Linked DNA regions of Homo sapiens: all the other regions are linked to region 1. The links come from fine-mapping of genetic effects on gene expression. A gene starts in region 1. Each other region holds a variant in brackets. All regions are shown on one strand. Distances are from middle to middle. Region 1 holds the start of OR2C3 (olfactory receptor family 2 subfamily C member 3). Region 2 has its middle 34 kb from the start of OR2B11. Region 3 has its middle 21 kb from the start of OR2B11.

Region 1 (8,379 bases):
GTTCCATCTGCACCCCAGTTTCAGCCATTTGGGGATGAGACTGAGTACTCCATATAGGCCATGATGAGACCGTGCGGAAAATACCGACATATAATGAATAGCTGAATTAGTTCTCAATATTCTACCCCACCAACTGTGATCCATATGACATGGGAGGCCAAACCTACTGCTTTGCTCAAGGATATACCATGGAAACTTGAGTTCTGAGAAGCTCAGTTGCTGGGAAATTGCCAAAAGACATTAATTATAAGCAATGCATTGCTCTAACTAGCAAGAGGCATTTCCTTGTTGTTTTAATAGCTTCAATAGGAAAAAAAAAATTGAAAAAGCTTTTGCAAGAAAATAGTCACAGGATTTATAATTTAAACCAGCATAGGTTTAGACAAAACTATGACCAAATGGGTAAAGAAATGTCTGGATGAAAAAATAAAAGGCTTGAGTAGTGTAACTGTCACTTAAAAGAATATTTGTGTCATTTTTGAAAAAAATTCTTTTCAGCAGTTTCTTTTATTTTTAATACTCAGTAACTCAATGCCTTCTAAACAGAAATAGAGAACATATAAAAATGAGGATATGCAAGACATTACAACTTTCTCAAAGGCTCTTGAGTTTTTTTCCTTGCAGGTGGTTACAGTTTAGGAAATGCATGAATGACAAATATTTGGTAGTGGAGTGATTGTATTCTACGTGAATTGAAAAGAAAAGAGAAACTGCAAAACCCGGAGTGCAGTCTTATCCTTTCTAATCCTTCTGACGCGTTGCAGAAAGCTTGCTCGTTTGCAATAAAGTAAGGCCTCCCTCCCCCACTTGCTCTTGCATCCCCACAGTGGTCACTGCCCCCACCTTCAGTTCATACATCTGCTCACACATCAGCACTCCTTTATTAAGCTGCATCTTCGTGCCCATGCTCGGAAACTGGGGATGCAGAAGAAACAAAGTAGACACCACTGCCTTCATGAGCTTCTATTCTGACAGAACAAGACACATAAGTAAAAATAAGCATGTAGAATGCTTCAATACGTGCTGAACAGTGCTCCGGAGAGAAATAGAGCAGAAGTGGGAAAAGGATAAGTTTGACAATTCGAAGTAACACCATCAGGGAAAATGCCTCTGAGGTGAAGGTTAAGGACAGATGTGAGGCCTCAGCCAAGCACTTGTTAAGAGATGGAAACTGGCTGGGCGTGGTGGCTCAAGCCTATAATCCCAGCACTTTGGGAGGCTTAGGCAGGTGGATGATGAAGTCAGGAGTTCGAGACCAGCCTGGCCAACATGGTGAAACCCCATCTCTACTAAAAATACAAAAAATTACCCAGGCGTGGTAGCACATGCCTGTAATCCCGGGAGGCAGAGGTTGCAGTAAGCTGAGATTGGGCCACTGCACTTCAGCCCAGGCAACAGTGCGAGACTCTGTATCAAAAAGAGAGAGAGAGAGAGACTATTCTAGGCAGAGGAACCAGCAGAGCTAAAAGCAGCATGGCAAGTGAGAGCCTGGCGTTTTTGAGGAGCGAGGAAGCCTGTGAGGCTACAGTAGAGGGAGGAATGGGAGAAGTGGTGGGAAGTGGGATCAGAGAGGTAATGTGTGTGGAGGGGGAAGGCGCAGACAGTAGATACTCATGGATTATGAAACAACATGGGGTATTTACAGAGTCAGGTAGGAAGTCAGTGAAGCGTTTTCAAGTAAAATCGTTGTGATTTTAATACAAGTAATCTAGCTGAGACAGGGTGATTCGTTGTAAAAATGATTGTAATCTGGATATCTTTAAAAATAGAGTCAAAAGGATTTGCTGACAGATTATATGTGAGGAACAGAGGTCGTGGAAATGAGAGGGGTCAATGTTTGAGGCCGAGGGCTCCCCTGATTAGGCCCAGACTTAACTTGCCTCACTGGCTTTAGTCGCTTGCTTTTAGTCGGTCACTTGTTTCTAGTTTATTTTAAGATTTTCATAGCTAAAGGTCACGTAGCTAAGCAATATATAATAAAAAAAAATAAAACTGCCACCAGTTTCCTCAGAGATAACATCTCTCATGTATAGATCACTGTGGTAACGATTGCTTAAGTTCTTTTCAGGAACGAGGGTCAACTCTTGTCCAGTTCAAGCTAGCTGAAACCACTGGTCCCCAACTGGACCTGCGTGAATATCCAATGGGTGACCTTTAGATGTCACAGTGCCCAAAACTCCACCCTCAGATCATGTTAATGACACCATTTTGTGAACATGTGTGCTATGAAGAGCCATGAAGTTTGACTATATTTGAGCAGATTACTGATTACCTCATTTTTTCCTACCCCAATCACATTTTCCTACACCTTGGACCACCTCACTCCTCTATCCCATAAATATCCCTAAAATCCCATTTTCAGGGAGACTGATTTGAGACCTGTTCTCCTGCTTTCTCACTTGACTCCCTCATAAATAAACTCATTCTCTGCCACAAAACTCATCATTTCAGTGATTGGCATACGGTGCCATGGGTTTGGAACCACATGGACTCCAAGCTTCTGGACTAAGCAAATGGAAGAATAGAGTTCTCAGTTGTCATCAACTGAGAAGAGGAGACTGCAGCTGGAGGAGGTCAGGTGTACAACAGGGTTCGTTTTCTAAAGTGTTGCACTGGAGCTTTGCATTAGCCATCTGTATTAGGCAGGTCGAGATATCATAACAAAACACCACAAACTGGGTGGTGGCGGGCAACAGAAATGTATTTTCTCACAGTTCTGGAGACTGGAAGTCCAAGATCAAGGTACCCTCAGGGTTGGTTTCTGATGACGCTTCCCTTCCAGCTCGCAGCCATCTGCCTGCTTGCTGTGTCCTCATCTGGCCTTTCCTCTGTGCATGTGTGGAAAGAAAGAGACTGGGGTAGGCAGGGAGGGAAGATAGCTAGTATTTCTTACTCTTTTTATAAGTATTCCAATCTTATGACATTAGGCTGCCACTCTTATAAACTCATTTACTCATAATTATCCCCTTAAGGGCCTTATCTCCAAATATAGTCACATTGTGGGTTATGGTTTCAACATATGAATGGGTGTAGGGCACAATTCAGTTCATAACACCATCCAAATGAAGCTGTAGTATAGGCAGTTAGATATGTGAATCTGAAGTTTGGCATAGAGGTGCTGGCCAGGAATATAATTCAGAGAGTCTTCAGAATACGGTTCATATTTGGACCCATTAGACTAGATACTAGCTAACATACGTCTATGGGTTTATGTCACTTGATTTTTGACAAGGGTGTCAATAGAGAAAGTGTAATCCTTTCAACACATATATCCAGTTCAACACAACTGGATAGACACCTGCTAAAGAATGAAGTTGGACCCTACCTTACAGCATATACAAAACGTAACTCAAAATACATCAAAAGCCTAAATGAAAGAGCAAAAAATTATAAACTCTTAGAAGTAATCATAGAAGTACATTTTCATGACCTTGGAAGTCTCACTGTTTTGTTAAATATGACATGAAAACCAAAAACAACAACAAAAAAAATAGATAAATTAGTCTTCATCAAAATTAGAAACTTTTGTTCATCAAAAAGACATTGTCAAAAGAGTTAAAAGACAATATACAGAGCGAGAGAAAATATTTGCAAATCATGTATTTCATAAGGGTATAATATTCAGAGTATATAAGGAACACTTACAAAAAGACAAACAACCCAATCAAAAAATAGGCAAAAGACTTGAATAGACATTTTTCCAAAGAAGACAAGTAAGTGGCCAACAAGCACATTAAAAAATGCACAACATTATTAGCTGCTGGGAAACACAAATCAAAACCACAATGAGATGCCACTTTGTATCCACTACGATGGCCATAAAGGAAAAAAAAAAGATTGTAAAAAGTGGAAAATAACAAGTGCTGGTGATTATGTGGAGAAACTGGAACACAAATTGCTTGTAGAAATGTAAAGACTGTTTAGCTGCAGCAGAAAAGTTTGCTGGTTCAATAGTAAGTTGTTCATAGAATTTCCATAAGACCTAGCAATTCCACTCCCAGGTATACCCAGTAGAATCAGAAACGGAGTTCAAACAAAAACTTGTATGTGAATGTTCATAGCAGCTCTATTCACAATAGCCAAAAGGTAGAAACAACTCAAATGTTCATCAACAAACTAACCCAAATGTCTGTCAACAGATGAATAAACAAAAGGTGGTAGAGTCATAGAATGGAATATTATTCCTCTTTAAAAGAGAATGAAGTACTGATACACGCTACAACATAGATGAACCTTGAAAATATCATGTTAAATGAAAGAAACCAGACACAATAACATGTATGATATAAGTCCATTTATATGTAATATCCAAAATAGGCAAATCCATACATAGAGAAAGCAGATTAGTGGCTGGCAGGGCTAGGGAGAGCTGGCAAATGAAGACTGACTGCTCGATGGCTACAGGTTTTCCATTTGAGGTGATGAAAAAGTTCTGACGCTTGATAGAGGTGATGGTACAGTCTTGTGAAAGAACTTAATTCCACTGACTTGCACACTTAAAATAGTTACAATGATAAATTTATATGCTATCTGTATTTTACCAAAATAAAAATAAATTGATAAATTTAACTTATTAAGAAAAACATTATCTCATCACTGATGTATACACCAATAATAAAATCAATGGTTTTTTTAAAAAAAGAGTCTATAGCAGCATGTATCAAAATTAACAGAATGAGCAAATGTCTCAGACTATCTCCCTCACTACATGATAGAGAGACTTGATTCTTACGCTCCATAAGCAGTTTGGCAGTATAAAAACTAAAATAATATTCCAGTCATAAAAAAGAAACAATTCTGTGTGTGTAATACAATGAAGTTATAATTATCCAATAGGGAAAGAAATCCCAAAAGCTTTTTTCCCTCCACTTTTACTCCCCTGATATATGCCATCACCCTCAGGCTCCCTCCTGAAGGCTCCAGGGGTTACAATCAATGTCTTAGAATTATAAGGACTTTATGTCACACTTCACCCTTTAGGGTCTGCATATACTTTCTCATTCTGGAAACACCATGAGCCATTCTCACTCCTTTGATTATCAATTTTCTTACAAAGTATTTTAAGTGCTTTCTGCTAGTTCAATCCCATTGTGATTTAAATACTTAATAATGTGTCCTTTAGACATGAATTTGAACAGAATCTAACACGTCTGCTACCACCGACTTAGAGATTTCCACTATTTGCAGGGCTTTAAAATCCCCTGGCTAAACTCCTATTTTTTTAATGCCACACGCATTGAATTCATGAATGTTATCAGTCTTTTTAATAAAATATTGCCCATTTTACAACATTTCCACCCTGCATAAATAGAGATGATGCTGCTAGCTCACCATTAGTAAGTGACATTTTGAATTTTGTCGTTTGTTTGTTGTTGTTGTTGTTTATGGTATTTAAGATAAACTGGATCTCAGACTTTCTGGTAATTCCAGTTAAAATTGATAAGCACTGATCCGTTTAAATGATCTGATTTCCTCATGTGGCCTTTGATATTCTAGCAGCTTGCCTATGTTCTGCGATACAGTTTGTGACTGCCTAGTTAACTCAGACAAAATTTGAACTCAAGACGTTTCCTTAACTTTCAGTATGCTATCTTTGTCTTAATGGCACAGTGTTTGGGATAGGGTTGCATTTTGAAAAGTGAGTTTTTAATTGTGACAATTTTGGTGAATCTCTGCGGGTAAGCAAACCTCTTCCTTTACTGAAAACGCTATTTTTGTACTAAGAATCTGAGTATCTTGGGTATAGCTCCAGTATGACTAAGCAGCCCAGGGGCTTTGGATAAGTTACTAAACATTTCTAGAAGTAGATCAGATCACCACAAAGATCTCTTTTTCCTCAAAAATTCTACTAAACTATTACCTCATGAGTGACCTTGTGGTTCCTCTCAGCATCATTTACACATTTTCTGCATGTTATCAACTGTGAGTCAACAAAATTTTTATCTTTCCACAGATGGGATATACTTACACCCACGGGTCATAATGCAGTTGTCAGTTTAACCTGTTGTTTTTCAGCTCACCTGCGGTGACTCTATATACAGTACACCCACTTTGACTGTCATGACTCAGTTGTACCTAACTCTCCCAATCCCAGTTCATCTTTTCTCTCTCACATTCACATGATGAAAACATCCACGTTTTGACAGGTCTCAACTCTACCTCCCTGATTGGTTTGTTTGTTGTTGTTTTGAGACAGGGTCTTGCTCTGTTGCCCAGGCTGGAGTGCAGTAGCACAATCATGCCTCATTACAGCCTTGATCTCGTGGGTTGAAGCCATCCTCTAGCCTCAGCTTCCCAAGTAGCTGAGACTACAGGCACACACAGCCACACTCAGTCATTTTATTTTATTTTTTTGTAAAGACAATCTCTCACTATGTTGCCCAAGCTGGTCTCAAACTCCTGAGCTCAAGTGATTCCCCCCACTTCAGCCTCCCAAAGTGCTAGGAATACAGGCATGAGCCACCGCCCCCGGCTTGCCTCCCTGATTTGGAGGAGGTTGGAATGTATTCTCCAGGATGCCTTCTCCCATAGTATTAATGCTTCCCTGGCCTACTATATGCAGGCCAGATGATTGTCTCAGTATTCTGACACAGTAAGTCCACAATGGGACAGCTTCCACGTGTGAATTTTAACAAATGCCTAGAGTTTTCTGAGCCTCATTTCTATACATGCACAATGGAAAACCTACCTGTATTTTTAAAACTGAATGCACATGTCTGTTCATGTCTATTTTGTTTAATTGACTTCCAGTTACAGGGATAGGTAAATTCTACTCTCTGGGATTTTAAGAAGGCTGATAGTTAAGTTCACAGCTGCTCTGTTCCCCTAATCTGGGTGAATCTTAACTATAATAAATTGATTCTCCTTTTTAAAATACAGGCTAGAATTAATGTTTTGCAAAGAAGGGCCCCAAAGGTCTTCAGGGACATCGGAAGCACACTGAAATTGTCCAGTTTCTGACTTTATGCACTGCCCCTGCTAAATCGTGCTCGTTTTATTCCAACTGTACAAAAGCAGAGGATAGTCCAGACCCTTCTGCATGACTCTGGCAGTTCCAAGAGCTCTCTCCTGACAACACTACCGAAAGTTTATGCTGAGTCCTTCCACTCTGCCTTCATATTACTCTAGTCCTGCCTCTTCCACCCCACAGAACCTTTCTAGCAACCTGTTTCATGATGCACGTCCATGAATATTGATTAAGGGACTACTGTGTATCAGACACTGGGTTAGACACTGGGGACCCAGAGGTAAACAAAAGATAAAACTATGGCTCCATGGAATTTATGATCTAGTGGAGCGAGACGGGTAGCAAACAAAAGAAATAAGAGTAGTTTATTTGTTATAAGATTATCACCTTATATAAAAATAATTCAGGAAAGAGAGAGAAGGGAGTTGTGAGGGTTTTCAATATTATATAACACAGTCAGGGAGGGCCTCAGTCAGAAGGTGACTTTTCAAAAATGACCTGAAGAAGGTGAGGAAGGGGGTGTGTGGATGTCTTGGGGAGAAAGCACTGTAAGTATAGCAAACTGCAGCTGCAAGCCTTGTACCAAGACAATGAGGGTGTTGAGCAGCAGACTGATGTGATCATATGTCTTAATGTAATCCTGTGATTGCTTTCGTAGGAGTGAGGGAAAATTTCACCTTTGTCCTCTGAAATTTCACAGAAATCAACTGACAAATGGCAGATTCATAGGAGAAAAGACATACACATTTATTTGATCATAGTTTTACATAACAGAGGAGCCTTCAGATGAGAATCCAAAGATACAAGAGAAACTTCCCATTTTTATGCTTAGGTTCAAAGCCATATGGACAGCCATGTAGAAATATGATTGAACATGAAGGGCATGATCTAATACTGATGGACTGAGTGAAGAAGCCCAGCAAGACCCATCGTGAGATTCTTTTTGGCCTCTCTGAGCAGTGTTCCTTTTTTCTTGGTATGCAATAAGACCTCTCTGGAATGGAGGTCTTATGATCTACAATCCAGTAAGGTAGGTCAGATAATTTATTTATGGCTAGTTTTAACACAGAAAGGTGGAGGGAAAGTTAGAGTAACATTTTTAGGTTTTATGGCTGGCTTTGAGGAAAAGGGGCTCTGGTTTCTATGTGTCACCTTGGGGAAGAGGGATTCTAATTTCTATGGCTAACTGCGGGGAAGAATGAGGGGCCACGGACAAGAAGGCAGGAGAAAGAGAAACTTTTGCTTCTGAAGCCTTCATGGTGGGGTATCATTTTCTGAGCCCCAACACTTTTTTGAGAGTACTTGGAAGGGGAGCAAAGGAGAAGCAGAGAGATGAGTTAGAGTATTAGATCAAAATTCAGATGATAAATGATGGCAAGATGGGCCAGAGTGGCAGGAGCAGGGGTGGTGAG
Region 2 (8,379 bases), 45 kb after region 1:
CTTGTTCTTGCCTATGCCTCCATTATTTAACCATGGCAATTCCCCATAAGAACCCTACAAACAAACATGTCAAACTACCAAACTCAAAATACCTTTCGTCTTCTCTTTGACCAGCACAGTCTTTTTATTTTTTACGTATAGCATTTCCTTCCCATTCTTTTCCTTTCTAACTTATTCACTCTTTAAGACTCAAAACAGACTTCATCTCCTATAGAAACACCCAAACTTCAATGATCAAGTACCACCTCATTCATTCCACGGCACATTTTCAGCATCAGGTTGCATTTTTTCTTTAAGTCTTTCATATATGTATCTCCATTGTCCTAGCATAGTATACTTGCTGACAGAAGAAGAAAAAAAGGAAGGAAGGAAAGGAAGGAAGGAAGGAATCCACCCTTTGCCTACCCAGTTCAGGGGATTCTCCCTGCCTCAGCCTCCCAAGTAGCTGGGATTACAGGTGCCCACCACCATGACCGGCTGATTTTTGTATTTTTAATAGAAATGGGGTTTCACCATGTTGGTCAGCCTGGTCTCAAACTTCTGACCTCAAGTGATCAGCCTCCCAAAGTGCTGGGATTACAGGCATGAGCCACCGCACCCAGCCAGATTTAACATCATTTACAATCAATCTTACTCTACCTGCCTTCCATACACAAACTTTTTTTCAGACAGAAATTCTTTTTTTCAGGTACCATTATTGTCTTTCTGTACTTCCCAAATACTTTTTAAAGAGCATCAGAATTTCACAATTTTATGTTCTAGTTCAATTCTCTGGTCAAATATTTTCTTACTATTCCATCTCTACCTTACTGTTTGTTATATCATTACTTTGTCCAATTTTATTATAGTAGTATTTTATTCTATTTTCTTTCCAATTGATGAGAATTTGGGGGGAGGACCTTTGAGTCAGTTTCTTAAGTCCCTACAGAGAAATCAGATTAACCAAGTTTATCAAACTGTGAAATAAGTAATTCAAATTTCAGCTGTTGGAAATTTAAATTATTTTGAGCCTTAAGAGGAGTGTGACTATGTGGCCTGAGTCATGTAGCATACAGCTGCAACTTCTGCTTTTTCCTGTAAATGATTAGGAAAGACTAAATCGTACCAGAGATAAGATTCCTTGAGACCATTACCCCTTCTTGTGGAGTGTTCATGTTAAACAATTTTCCTTGGCACGTAGCCAGCTGTACCTAATCAAATCACTATAATGTATTTACTGACCTTATATGAGAACTACTGTAACTCTGCTAAATTTCTCTGCTTCTGCCTAAATCAGTAAACTTTAACTTTTCCACTTTGGAGTACTGACTCCATTTCTTGGGAGTCTGTGTTATTCAGGTGGCTAATTCTCAAGCTTTGCCCTCAAATAAACTCCACATTTAATCATATTTTCTGAATCTTATTATTTTAAAGTTGACAAAACTAAAGCACACAAGTCAATGGTCAATTTGTAGATGGGTTGATTGATTCCTCTCCCCATACCCTGAAACTCCAACTCATCACTAACTGTATCCAAGATAAAGGTGTTATTGGATGAAAACGTCCACTGTTGCAGTGTCAGTGCTAGGACAAATGACAGGGGTCCGAGTGGTAGTGTACCCTAGGAACTGTGAGTGGACAGGCCCCTATAGCCATGTCAATTTCTTTGATTTCCTTACAATTTCCAGGGTATTATATGCATTTAATGAATACTCCTTAACTTGATCCGTTGAAAAATTTATCACAGAAATAGCATTAATATAAAGAAAAAAACACGTGGGAAATGATGTTCACAGCTGTGGCCAGTACCCTCCTGCACATCAGCTGAAAATATACTCATTAGATGTATGGGGGTGCTTTCCTGGCAGTTTTTATGCCACAAAAACTCAACCAGGAGAATTGGAGTAAAGAAAAGGACTGGTATTTGGATTAACAGACAAATTTTTTTAATCTTTTATCTCTAGGATAATGCCCTTGGATGATTTTAAAAGAAAAACTTTAAAAGAAAAGATTTTAAAAGAAAAACTTAAATTTTTTATCAATAAAAAATAGCATTTGGATACTAAACAGTCCTAAAGTCCAAATTTAACCACATAGGACCTAAATGTGTAAGCAGTTAATGGAATGAAAAACTCCCTGGGAAATGTTTGACAAATAATGAATGCCATCTTAGGTATTCACTTGCCTTGTAATTTAAGCAACTCCCTTAGCCTCCCTGTGTTTTAGTCACATTATTTGCAAATAGGGTAAAGAATATCTATTTTTCACATGTCCTATGATCATCTTTATTATACAGGAAGACGACTGGAGCAATGGGTTTTGAAATATTTTATGCAATAGTTCCAAAACACCTGGTTAAACAACTTTGAAATTTTTTTCCATTTCTGTCTGGGTATTTTTGTTATCTCATAGATTTAGCCTCTGTGATAGTCTATGGACACGCTCTGCCCCATAATTCAAAAAGCCTGAACTGGTATTATCTACAAATAATGTGAAATCCGCACACTTACCCTGAATCACCACCTCACCCCCCAACCCACATTTCTATTAGGGTGCAAAAGTAGGCAGCAAAGTTCTCTGAGAGTTTGTGAGGGATCCTATCTACCTAATCTGAAAGAAGCAAGGAAAGGGTGTTTTCTACACCTGGAAGAGAACATTTTGCATCTTGCAGATAATAAATGGAAAAATACTGAAGCAGAATTTTACTAAAAACAAGATCTAAATAACAATTGCATAAGACCTACAAAAGAATAGATTGCCCAATGCCTGTGGTACATGAAAAAAAAAGTATTACTGAGAGACCACCCACCTCATATTTAACATACTTTGTCTTGCTTAATCTCTACTACAACCCTCTAAGGTGAAGAGTATGACCTCCATAATACAGATGAAAAAGGCTAGGCTTCGAAAGCTAACTGGTGAGAAGATAAATCAGTTCCAAGTCCAGATATGGATGATACTGTCTTCCCCATGCCTGGTGCACAGGATCATTCATACCCAGTGAAGGCAGCCAGGGATTCAGAATGCTACAGGAAGAGTCCTGGGTAATGTGAGGAGCTGGATTTTTATTATCTCTAAAACAATGATTTCAAAATCTATCATCAGTAACACCTAGGGAGCTTTTTAAAGACAGAGATGCCTAGACCCACACCTGGCATTGTAGATTCAGGAAATTTGGAGAGTTCTTGGAAATTTGTGCCTTAAGCGTTCTGATGCACGATCAAGTTTTGGAAACACTGCTTTTAGTAATGTCCAATTCCAATATGCACTGATTTTATAAGATTGGTCATCAGAGTTATTTGTGGAGGTTGGGGGTGGTAATTAATTTGAGTATAGGACAGCTCTCTTTGAAGTAGAATATTTACAGCTGTTTAATCTGCTAAGGAGAACAAATTCATTCTATCTGGATGTGTATCATTTGCTCTGTTCTTCCCAAAGGCTTGCATTCCTGACTAGAGTCAGCTCTTTTGTAGGTACTTTGGCTATGCGAAAAGGTCAAGGAGAAGATGCAAATAACTCTGAGCAAATTCTGCTTTTTCAAAAAGCAACTCAAAGGACATTCCCCACTCATACAGAACCAACCTGTATCCAGGACAGGGCACTATAACTTTACTGATGTTGACCCCTCTCTCTTTGAAAAACTGCCACAGAAGCAAATAAAAGGGCTTGAAGAAAAGGCCACTCATGTTGTCTCAATTTTTATTTGACATCCATGACATAATCTGCAGACTGCCCAGTGCCTTTGGGTGATTGAATTAGTTTTGTAAGTCCCCAGCAGTTGTGGATAAATCAAAAAGACAAGGAAAGTGCAAGATACAGCAGAGATATCCTGAAGCAGGCAACTTCAAACAGAAGGAAACCACTTCACATCCAGAGGGCAGAGGACGGGGTCAAACTCGAAAGCATTTTCCCACCCGCGTTCACTCTACTCCTTGAATATTAGTTCTCCACATGGCCACAGACACATCTAAGAGAGTAACTCCAGCAAACTGTCTACATTACTAGAGTGTTCCCCTCGTTGAGGCTCCCCAGCCCCTTTCTCCCACCCCAGAAGTTTCTTCATGGTCCCCTTCACATCCTTGTTCCTCAAAGTGTAGATGAGGGGGTTGATGCTGGGAATGACGATGGTGTAGAAGAGAGTCAGGAACTTCCCCTGATCTTGGGAGTAGCTGTTGGCCGGCTTCAGGTACACGTAGATGATGGTTCCGTAGAAGAGAGAGACCACTGTGAGGTGAGAAGAGCAGGTGTGGAAGGCTTTCTTTCGCCCTGCTGCTGACTTCATCCTCAGCACCGCGGCTGCAATCACGCCATAGGAGATGAGGATGAGGGAGAGCGGCACCAGGAGGAGAGCCACCCCCAGGGCAAAGGTGAATCGCTTCTACCAGCATGGTTTCCTCACA[A/G]GACATGGCAATAAGAGCAGGCATCTCACACAGGAAGTGGTCCACCCTGCGACGTCCACACCGGGAGAGCTGCATCGTCTGAGGACACATGATGAAGGAGTTTAGGAAGCCACAGCACCAGGCCACAGTCACCAGCTGCAGGCAGAGATGTGGGCGCATGACTGCCATGTAGTGCAGGGACCGGCAGACGGCCACATAGCGGTCATGGGACATGACAACCAGGAGGACGCACTCGGTGGAGCCCAGCATCATGTAGATGTAGAGTTGGGCCACACAGCCGTGGTAGGTGATGGTCTTCTCTGGACCCCCCAGGTTCCACAGCAGCTGAGGGGCAATGCTTGCTGTAAAGCAGAGATCTAAGAAAGACAGATTCCCAAGAAAGAAGTACATGGGTGTGTGGAGCCTGACATCCATGACCAGCAAGAGGATGATGGCAGTGTTGCCCACCAGGGTCAGGATGCAGAAGATCAAGATAACAGCAAAGAGAATTTTCTCCAGTCCAGGCCGATCAGAAGAGCCCACCAGGATGAATGCCTGTAGGTAACTGGCATTGTCCTTTCCCATAATCCACCAGCTATTACAGAGAAACAACCAAAGAATTAGATAAGGGGGCACATGCAGATGATCTGGCACTCTCCAATTTCCATTTACAGGTCTGTGAAGTTAAGAGAGCCATTTGCCCTTTCTTTGCTTTTTTAGAATAGACTTATTGAAACCTGTTACATGCAAAGTCGTGTGCCTGATGCCCCAGGAAGACGGGATGAATTGACTCTGGAGCTTCCCTCCTTGGTGAATAATGTGTATGAATAATGACAAAGAAGGGAGAAAGAGAAAGTTCTCTAAAAGAAGATGCGTTAAAAGGCTGAGTATTATGCAGATCACTCCCAAGTGATCAGGAGGGCCTGTGTAGAACAGTTTGTATTAAGGGAGACTGCTGAGTCTGAGAGTTGTTTTTGGTTGTTGCAAATAATAAGTAAGAATTTGACATGTGGCAGATTGAGCTAAATATGTTTCACAAAGAGGAGGTAGTATATACAAAGTCATGAAGGACCACATTTATGGGTGATGCTTAAGGAAGCCATGAATGTACGTACCAGGCAACTCCTTAATGGCATGTAATTTTATTAAGATGAAACACAGTGATTTTTGACCCTACAAGAAAGGACTGTGATGATAGGTTTAATTCTGCCTCTGTAAAACACAGGTCTGCAAATGTATGGCCTGCTATTCAGTTCATCTCTCTCTAACTTGGCTTTTCCTTGTGCAACATGGGAAAGAGGCTAGATCTTCTCTAAGTCCCCACTCAGACCTCACATGTCTATGTAACTGGTGACACTGAGTATATACCCTGAGCACTTTCAGCTATTGAGGATTTCCACAGTCTAAGCCAAGGGCTTTGATGGGGACTCTGCCTTATACAGCCAATATCCACCCAGGCTTGTATCTGCTATGATAATAGCAAACGGCATCTGGGCAACACACAAGAAGGAAGCTGTGGGAATGAGGGCACAGAAACACATTGAAGGACATGTGTCTATGCAGCCGCTGTCACCACCTGTCCATCCTGACAACTGACATGCTATGAGCTGTATCCTGTTGGAGCTGCAATTGGGAATTCTGTAGTTCCCATCCATTGGTCCAGGCACCGGACCCTCTGCAAAGCCCTATGAAAGGGTAAAAGAGGCAGGGTCTATCAGAAGTAGCCAGCCAAGTGTCAAAGAATGGAAGACTTTCAGAGGCTTCCTGAGTACTCACAAAGGAGACTTTCACAGACACACATTTTACAGGTGTTGGTTATTATGAACAACTTGTACTTCTGTATCCTCAGACCTATCATAAGTTTTCTCCCAGGTTCAGGAGACCTCAAGAGTGGCAATGACAAGCTACACAAATTGCTCAGCAACTTTATCACTTTGGGTGATAAAGTTGTGATCACTTTGGGTGATCTCAGCAAAGTTTATCACTTAGGGTCTGACTCCTTAACCAAAACTGCAAATTTACCTTGTAGTCATCTGTTCAAAACTACTTTTTTTCACAATGCTTTATTCTTTCAATCCAAAATGTCCCACTGCTCACCCTTATGACAAATATGCAGAGGCTCTTCTCTGTTTCACCTAACAGGTATTCAACTATAAATTAATGCATCCTGTCTTCTCACATTTCTTAGCTCTTTAGTTCAGAACCATGAAATTGCAAGGAATACAGCTCTTAGAAATGCCCAAATACCTTTAATAGTTTAGTTGACACATAATACTATAAATGCTTACTAATTTTGAAAACTTAGACGCCAAGGTCTGAATTGGGTTGATTCTCTGGCTGAAGGTTATGCCCAAAACTGTACCAACCCATATAGAGGAGAATCCACCAAATGGTTCTCTGTGCTTACTGAAAAGGATTTAACAATGCCAAGCAATAGAGCTATTTTTGCCTGGCTTAGGTATAGAGCACAACATAAACAATCACAACCCTTTCACATTAGCGTACATTAGACTTTTACAGAGCTTTCACACTCTAGTTTCAGACCATCATCACAGCAGCCCTGCAAAGTGGACAGGCCAGGCATTAGAATCTCCATGTTAGAGATGATCAACCTCAATAATAGAGAAGAAGAAAGAATAGCCAATGCTTGCACTACAGCTTCATATCAGAGCAAGGTTTATAGTGCCAGCCCTATGCATTAACCCAAGTTTCCATTCATTCTGCCTTCCTCCCTGTTCCTATTTCTCACCCACTTAAAGCTGTAGTTGTTTAAAGTTGATCACTCATTACAGCACTCCCATTAACCTACACATTACAATCCTAACAATAAAATCCATCATCATGAGCAGTTTCCAGAGAGAAGCTTGTGATCACTCTCAAAATCGCCAGAGATTTGCAATGCTTGATTTGTGCGAAAACAGAATTACACGGTTCTCTGTTCAAATCAGCTATCATTTTATCAAGAGACTAAAAAGATTGGTTTATTGTGTGTGCATGTAGGCTCAGAAGAGGCCCTAGGATTGGCTCAGCTAGCAATGGACAAATGGATAATGGATAATCACATAATCACTCCTAATCTACTTTAGATACACTTTGCTAGAATTTGGTGCATTTGATTGTTTCCGAGTTGGATACAATGTCTCTTTTCCAAAATGGAGTTCCAAATTGCGAGTTGGCATTGAGAAACCCGTTACTCTGGTGTTCTAACAGATATAAACTCTAATCAAAACTATTACAAGATAACTCTATATCTGCATACAGACGACTGAAGATACAGATATAAATCTCATTGCCACGACAAAGCTTGTATTAAAATCTCACCCTTGTTCTTCCCAGAAAGTAGAAGACCTATGATTCTGTCAACCCTCCTTACTTCAATTCCGGAGACCAACCAGGAGTTTTCTCATGGATAAGGCAGCTAATTCTTGTCCCTTTTAGTTTCTGGATCTTCCAGAGGAAATTACACTGAAAACCCTGAAAGGAGATTGAGCACAAAAATAATGTCTGTCCCATTTAAGTGTTAATAAGCCTTTAAGTAGCAGAGCTTGGAAGAGAAATGATGAACTGTGGGCAGGAATGACAAGCTAAGTGAGTGGTGTGGCATAGTGCCACATTTCAAGTCAACATGTTTTATCTCACGTCCATATATACAGGTAGTCTAGGGTCAAGGAGATGGCAGACCAGCCCCAGGGATAAAGGAAAGCACACTTAGTTCTAAGAGCTTTGAGAATATAGACAATGTCATTTGATTGGTTCATACTAAGTGGATAGGAGGACAACTTCAATGCCATCTCACCTTGGGGATTTGGAGTCATCTAGGGGCATGAGGAAAAGTGACATCAGCTTGTTCACAGAGCTAAGACCTCAGGGACTCGTGTCATCTAGAGATTGGCCCGGCCACCGCCCCCCCCCCGCCCCCCGCCCCCCACAACACACACAAACACAAAACTCACCGGGGAGGCAACACAGAAAGTTCCCAAATGTGGGGCTCAGGTATTCTTGAAAAGAGAATTAATTTCTG
Region 3 (8,379 bases), 58 kb after region 1:
CTCCCTTTGTGACTCTTAAGAAGATCATTAACACTGATTTTGTGGAGTGACTGATTATCATATTATACTTTGTATGTTCTTACCTTTGTAATATCACTCCTCCTCTGTTCTCCTAAGCCTATCTGCCAACTGCTCCTCCATTCTTTTTTCATTCACTATTTTAGGTATTCCAGAAGAAAATGGGTAAAGAAATAGAGCTAGTAAGTGTTTGAAGGCATTTATTTTTTAACATTTTCATTACAGTGTATCATGCATAGAGAAATGTGCTTAGATCAAAAAGTGAGCACAACCATCTAACCACCATTCAGGTTAAAAAAAAAAGAAAACAACACCCAAAGTCCCCTCATAACCTTTCTCCGTCATCCTACTCAAACCCTATCTGCTCAATAACACTATAGATTAGTTTTCCTTTCTGTTGAAATTTACATAAGTGAAAGCAAATGGCAGGTTTATTTTTATTTCTGGATTATTCTGTTCAATGCTGCTCTTACTCATTTCATTGTGGATAATATCCATGATACGAATACATCCCACTTTATTTGTTCATTTTACTGTGCACAGATATTGGATCATTTTCTGTTTTGGGCTGATACAAATAAGACTGCTGTGAGCATTATTGTAGGGTTTTTTTTTGTGCAGACAGGCACTCATACCTGTTAAATGTCTGTCCAGAAGTAAAATCATGACCTTAGGAAATGCACATGTTCACATTTAATGAAAAAAAAAATGCCCAATAGTTTTCTAAAATGTCATAACAATTATACTCCCACTAATAGTGAATGGCGTTCTTGGCTCCATTTCTCCATCATGTGGTATGGTCAAGTTTTAAATTTCAGGCCTCAGGCATGTTAGTAATCCTTCTATGTGTTTTCATTTGCAATTCACTGACTAATAATAAGTTGGGAATCTTCTCATAAATTCATTGACTATTTAGATAGCCTCTTTTAAAAAATGTCTTTTTAAGTAGCCTGTTTTTCTATTGGATTCTTACCTTTTTTCCTATCTATTTATACAAATTTTTCATGTGGCTTGGCTATGAAACCTTTATCAGTTATGTGTAATACAAATATCTTTTTTTTCAAATCATGGGCTTGCTTTTCCCTGCTCTTACTCTTGTCTTTTGATACAGTACTTAATTTTAACGCAGTCCTATTTACTGATGGTTTCCTTTATAAATACTGCTTTTGGTGTTTTGTTTAACAAATTATTCTGTATCTTTTCTAGCTTCATATTGTCTCTTAAAAACATGGCTTCTAGCTTACTGGGTCCTCACTTGGTATGCCTGCCAGGGTTAGGGCTGGGGGATAGCTAGGGGCTCAGCCAGTGTGTTTCCAAGAACAGAAAGAACATGAGGGAGCATCTGAAGGGTGTTAGCCAACATGACCAGTGCCAAAGACATGGCACAGGTTGCCAAAGATAAGTTATATACTGACAGATTGAGAAAATAAGTAAATATATTGAGGTTACTGGAGGCCTAGTTTTTCACTATTGGAAAGGGAGATTCCATATAAGGAAAGAGGAAGACTACAATACATCTTATGGTATTGAATTTTAATTGGAAATATCAGTATATATTCATGATTTTAAAATACACACAGAGGGCTTGGTGCGGTGGTGGACACCTGTAATCCCAGCATTTTGGGAGGCCGAGGCGGGCGGATCACCTGGAGTCAGAAGTTTGAGACCAGCCTGGCCAACATGCTGAAACCCCGTCTGTACTAAAAATACAAAAATTAGCCGGGCATGGTGGCAGGCGCCTGTAATCCCAGCTACTTGGGAGGCTGAGGCAGGAGAATCGCTTGAACCCAGGAGTTGGAGGTTGCAGTGAGCTGAGATCATGCCATTGCACTCCAGCCTGGGGTACAAGAGCGAGACTTCGTCTCAAAAAAAAAAAAAAAATACACATGGAGATTTATGTAGATATAGAAGTGTGTGTGTGTGTGTGTGTGTGTGTGTGTGTGTGTTCATGCATGCATATTTCCTAGCTCTTAGCTGAGAACACCTAAAAACGTTAACACTGCAGTAGCACTGAGCATTCCCAACACCCATTATTTAGTTACTAAATCCCTTCTCCACTAAAAAGAAGTTCTTGGGAGAAACAGTTGTGGATTCAGGCCTGGAGCAAGAGGTGATGAAGGAAGAATAACAGGTCCATCATCTGGACACAGGAACCAGATTGAACAAGTTCTGCTAATAAAATATTGGAAAATTTTTGAGTCTCAAAATAAATAGTGTAAGAGATTATAACTCATTTATACTATACTCTTGTTTTTCTCATAACTCCTCCCATTGTATGAAATTATCTTTTGAACCTACTTGTTTGCTTACTAGTTAAAGTCTCCCCAACCCAGGATATAAACTAAGTGAGAACAGGCACCTCACCCATCACCTTTTCCATTATATCATCCTTACCTAGAGTAGAGTTGCAGATAAATAAATAGTTGACAGATGATGATGATGATGATACATAGATGATTGATAGATAATAGATAGATGATATATAGATAGATAGATAGGAGATAGGTAGTAGATGGTAGATGGTAGATGGATGGAGAGATGGAAAGAGAGAATGGCTGAATGAATGAACAAACAGAACTCCCTGTGATAATTAGGTGGAAAACTATAGGGAATATTGATTTACTCTAATTGCCCATTGTGCATACCAAAATCTTCACTTATATTAATATAGAGTTTATATGGTATAAGTCGGTGCATAGCAATATCTAGAGGAACTCATTTACATACAACTTAGGAAGCAATCACTTCTCAGTAAAAGAGCCAGCCTCCTACTTGATTAGAGAAAACAGAATTCATAAGACAGAGAATTCCTCCATTCCCATTCTAACTCTGCAGGCTCTCTGCAGCCTCGGTTGCTATGCTCCTTTGCCCTGTCTCAGTGGAAAGAGGGGCTCTACTCCTGTCGAAGTCCATGCTATGTGCTATGGGCTTCCCTCCTCTCACATGCCTGGGACTCCCTTGTATGGGACATTCCTTCTTGTTGCTATTTCATATCCATCATCCCTTCCTACTGGTATTAGCAATCTCTTAAAAAAAAAAAAAACCCTTCCTTTCAAATATCAGCATAAATTTACTGAAACTAAAATAATGTTGAGTTGCCAAAAAACATTACAAATCATTGAGAATATAAAACTAGTACTAATATATGTGGGGAGATTAGCATAAAATGAGGATGGAGAACACATTAATTCAATAAATGATGTTTTTAAAATGGCAAAAGTCACATGAAATAAAACATCATTTTACACTTAAAACTACAACAAAACTTAAATGTGTCAGTGCTTTAAAGGCAGAAAAATAAATCCAGAGTGTCACCATAAGAAAGATATCTATTCTATAAGCAAACATTACAGCATCAGCATCCCTAAGATGCTAAGAGTTAGCATCCCTAAGATGCTACATATCATGATGATGCTATCATGATGATGCTACATATCAAGATGATGCTATGTATCATCTTAGCATCCCTAAGATGCTAAGAGTTCTTACATAAAAACATGTAAAAATGCACCTTCTAATGGGTTGAATTGTGTCTCCCTCAATTTTTTATATTGAAAGCCTAACCTCCAGGAACACAGAATGTGACTATATTTGAAGATAGGGTCTTTAAAGAAGAAATTAAGTCACAATGAGGCTATTAGGGAGGGCTCTAAACCCTAAAATTCACCAATATGACTGGTGTTCTTATAAGAAGAGATTGGGAGAAAATGGGAAGTCTTCAGTAAGGAAACAGATTACGTGGTCCCAGCCGTTGCTCCCCAACAAGAACAATGATTTAACTACTCCCAGATAAAAATAACTCTGGGAGAGCTCCAGGGTACAAATAGCAAGGTTCAGCAGCCCATTGAAGCAGGAAAACTGAGGATGGCCGTATAGAAAGCACTGGAAGCATTGGACCTGTGTTAACCTATTCCCCAGCCCAGCACAGCTCAGGGCCAACAGGGATCTCCTTGGCTGCAACCTCCCTCCAAAGGGAAAAAGTGAGGCAGGAGGACATCAGCAGGCCTTGGTTCCGCCCGCACACATGCAACCTTCACGACAGAGCACCACCGCCATCTTTGCTGCCGCTAACACTAGCTAACACTATCGGATGGAGCGATCCAAAGTCCACAGTGCTGCATCCACCTGGGAGCAGGAGCTGCCGCTGAGCTCCGTCTAAACTGGAGCAGCTGCACCATGCTGTGGCTCAACCTGTGTTCTCATGTTCAAGGCAGTCGGATCACTTGAGGCCAGGAGTTTGAGACCAGCCTGGCCAACACAGTGAAAGCCCGTCACTAATAAAAGTACAAAAAGTAGCCCAGTACGGTGGTGCATGCCTGTAATCCCAGCTACTCGGGAGGAGGCTGAGGAAGGAGAATCGCATGAGCCTGGAAGGCGGAGGCTGCAGTGAGCTGAGATCATTCCACTGCACTCCAGCCTGGGCAACAGAGGGAGACTCTGTCTTCAAATAAAAAAAAGAGAAAAGAAAAAAGTAAATACATTATTCTTTTGTTGCAAGGATTCTGACTTCATTGTCAAAATGACATATTTTATTAACAGCTTTCTTTCTTTCCTTTTGTCTCCCTCAAGCAACCTCTTTGTAACCTCTGCTATTTTTCCCACCTTTTCTTGCTTAAAGTTGTCATAATTGATACTGCCATAGGAACCCAGACTCCTCTATGTATAAAATGTAAGTCTTCTGCAATCTCTACAACCAACCATCTCGACTTGAACCACAGAATGCCAAAAAGGTGGTAGAGACCTGCAGGCCGAGGAACGGAACGGCCTCTTTTGTGAATCAAATCAGGTGAGTATAAAATAAGATTGGTGGAGAGTTTTTAGATGTGGGAGTGAAATAACTCAGAACCAGAAAGTCAAATACCACATGTGCTCACTTGTAAGTGGAGCTAAATAATGTGTACACATGGAGGAAGAGTGTGAAATAATAGTGAATGGCCGGGTGCGGTGGCTCACGCCTGTAATCCCAGCACTTTGGAAGGCCGAGGTGGGCCGATCACGAGGTCAGGAGTTCAAGACCAGCCTGGCCAACATGGTGAAACCCCGTCTTTACTAAAAATACAAAAATTAGCCGGGCTTGGTGGTGAGCGCCTGTAATCCCAGCTACTCGGGAGGCTGAGGCAGGAGAACC[G/A]CTTGAACCCAGAATGCAGAGGTTGCGGTGAGCCAGGATCAGGCCACTGCACTCCAGTCTGGGGGACAGGAGTGAAACTCCGTCTCAATAAATAAATAAATAAAATAATAGACAGTGAAGCCTCAGAAGGGTGAAACAGGGATAAGGGATGAGAAATTACTTAATGGGTACAATGTACACTATTTGCACGATGGTTACAGCCAACACCTAGACTTTACCACTATGCAATATATCCATGTAACAAAACTGCATTTGTATCCCTTACATTTATACAAATAAAAAACATGTATTTGTGACAGTTGTCTCTCCAAGCTGGGAGTGCATAAGCTCATCACCAGCTCCCCCATGGTGGGGAAAAGTCATTTTAGCCAATAACTTGTTCATAAAGTAAAACTAAGCAGTTTCGTCCTCTCTGAAGTTCTCTGAATGGTGGTGATAATAGTTAACATTGGAAGACTGGAACAAAATAATGGTTTTCATTGTAGAAAAAGTACAGTTCAAGAAAAACTGTACTGTGAAATACAGTATTTCATAAGGATACCATAAAGTTGCCCCCATGGCAAGAAAATAAAAATCTATCCATCCAAATAACTTCTCAATTTTCTACTGAAGTGATGTGTTTAATGTTTAAAGTATACTGCTTCACATGTAATTTTTTTCAAAAAACCTGTTTATTTCAGCCAATTCAAGAAAATGTCAGTAAAACTGATTATTTGACATTATGTTGGTAGATTTTTTAAACTTATAAAATATTTTGGATTTATAGATACATAGACAAAATAAGATAACAATGGACAGACTAACCACCACTCAGCTTTATAAAATTTTAACATCTGCATTACATGTTCCAGGTCTTTTATGAAATAAAACATAGGTATATTCAAAGATCCTGAGAACATATTATTTCCCTCTTTCCACAGAGGTAAAACAAATTTTATGTTTATCATTTTCAAACATATATTCAAATTCATTTTAATTCATACATGTATTCAAAAATAATAAAGTATTTTTGCACACTTTAAAACTTTACATAAATGGTATAATACTGATGTTATCATTCTGAACTTTTTTTGTTCTCTCAACATTTATGGGTATTTTTGGTTTTTTTAAACTTTTATTTTAGGTTCAGTGATACATGTGCAGCTTTGTTATACAGGTAAATTGCACATCACAGGGGTTTGGTGTACAGATTATTTTGTCATCCAGGTACTAAGTATAGTGCCTGATAGGTAGTTTTTTGATCCTCACCCTCTTCCTACCCTTCACCCTCAGGTAGGCCCTGGTGATCATTGTTCCCTTCTTTGTGGCCACATGTACTCAAAGTTTAGCTTCCACTTACAAGTGAGAACATGCAGTATTTGGTTTTCTGTTCCTGTGTTGGTTTGCTTAAGATGATGACCTCCAGCTCCATCCATGTTATTGCAAAGGACATGATCTCATTCTTTTTGTGGCTACATAGTATTCCATTGTCTATATGTACCACATTTAAAAACTCCAGTCTACGGATGATGGGCTTTTAAATGGATTCCATGTCTTTGCTATTGTGAATAGTTGTTGGGTCAAATGGTAGTTCTGAGTTCTTTAAGAAATCACCAAACTGCTTTCCACAAGAGCTGAACTAATTTATATTCCCACCAGTCACGTATATGAGTTCCCTTTTCTCCACAACCTTGCCAGCATCTATTATTTTTTTGACATTTTAATAATAGCTATTTTGACTGGTGTGAGATGGTATCTCATTGTGGTTTTGATTTGCATTTTTCTGATGTGGAGCTTTTTTTTTATTTTTTGAGATAGGGTCTCACTCTGTCACCCAGGCTGGAGTGCAGTGGTTTGAGCACTGCAATCTCTGCCTCCACAGGCTCAGGTGATCCTCCCACCTCAGCTTCCTAAGTAGCCACCATGCCTGGATAATTTTTATATTTTTTGTAGGGATGGAATCTCACTGAGAGAAGAGAGAGACCCTCTCATACTGTTTTATATTGTTTTATACTCAGTACCTGTTTTAAGAAAAAACCAAGGAAGTGAAACCAAAGGCAGGCAGCCTGGCGCCAGGCACCAGACCCAAAATCAGACCCGAAACCAGGCCTGGGCCTGCCTGGCCTAAACCTAGTAGTTAAAATTCCACCCCTGACCTAGCAACTGATGTTATCTATAGATCCCAGACATTGTATGGAAGGACATTGTGAAACCTCCCATTCTGTTCTGTTTCACTCTGACCACCGGTGCATGCGGCCCCTGTCACATACCCCCTGCTTGCTCAAATCAGTCACGACACTTTCATGTAAAATCTTTAGTGTTGTGAGCCCTTAAAAGGGACAGAAATTGTGCACTCAGGGAGCTCAGATTTTAAGACAGTAGTTTACTGATGCTCCCAGCTGAATAAAGCCCTTCCTTCTACCACTCGGTGTCTGAGAGGTTTTGTCTGCAGCTCGTCCCGCTACATCACTGTGTTGCCCAGGCTGGTCTTGAACTTTTGGGCTCAAGTGATCCTCCCTCCTCAGCCTTCCAAAGTGCTAGGATTATAGGTGTGAGCCACTGTGCCCCATGTATGTTGAGCACTTTTTCATATGCTGAATGGTCACATGTATGTCTTCTTTTGAAAAGTGTCTGTTCATGTCTTTTGCCCACTTTTTAATGGGGTTGTTCTTTGTTTTTTGGGTTTGTTTGTTTTTTTTTGCTTGTAACTTTGTTTAAGGTCCTTATGGATTCTTCATATTAGACCTTTTGTCATATACATAGTTTGCAAATATTTTCTCACATTCTGTAGGCTGTCTGTTTACTCTGTTTATAGAGTCTTTTGCTATACAGAAGCTCTTACATTTAATTAGATCTCATTTGTCAATTTTGCTCTTATTGCAAAAAGAGCAATAATTGTTTGGTGTCTTTTGGCATCTTTGTCATGAAATTTTTGCCAGGGTTTATGTCCAGAATGGTATTTTCTGGGTTATCTTCCAGGGATTTTATAGTTTTAGGTTTTACATTTAAATCTTTAATCCATCTTGAGTTCATTTTTGTATATGGTGTAAGGAAGGGGTCCAGTTTCAATCTTCTGCATATGGCTAGCCAGTTATCCCAGCACCATTTATTGAATAGGGAATCGTTTCCCCATTGCTTGTTTTTGTCAGCATTGTCAAAGATCAGATGGTTGTAGGTTTGCAATGTTATTTCTGGGCTCTCTATTTTGTTCCTTTGGTTTCTTGTATCTGTTTTTGAACCAGTACCATGCTGTT

The links.
Region 2: its variant is fine-mapped to the expression of OR2C3 in monocytes (TOPMed, PIP above 0.99).
Region 3: its variant is fine-mapped to the expression of OR2C3 in blood mononuclear cells (TOPMed, PIP above 0.99).

Annotation. Positions count from the first base shown.
Region 1 is chr1:247,533,125-247,541,503 of GRCh38, reverse strand. OR2C3 (olfactory receptor family 2 subfamily C member 3) reads left to right here and starts at 5,064. Exons shown (of 3, transcript NM_198074.6): 1 at 5,064-5,336; 2 at 7,626-7,997. It also overlaps a transcript of GCSAML not described here.
Region 2 is chr1:247,487,692-247,496,070 of GRCh38, reverse strand. It overlaps the pseudogene OR2W5P. Among named protein-coding and RNA genes, the nearest start is that of OR2B11, 34 kb to the right of the region's middle. The variant A/G (reference allele first, on the strand shown) is at 4,380.
Region 3 is chr1:247,475,369-247,483,747 of GRCh38, reverse strand. No RefSeq gene overlaps it. Among named protein-coding and RNA genes, the nearest start is that of OR2B11, 21 kb to the right of the region's middle. The variant G/A (reference allele first, on the strand shown) is at 5,147.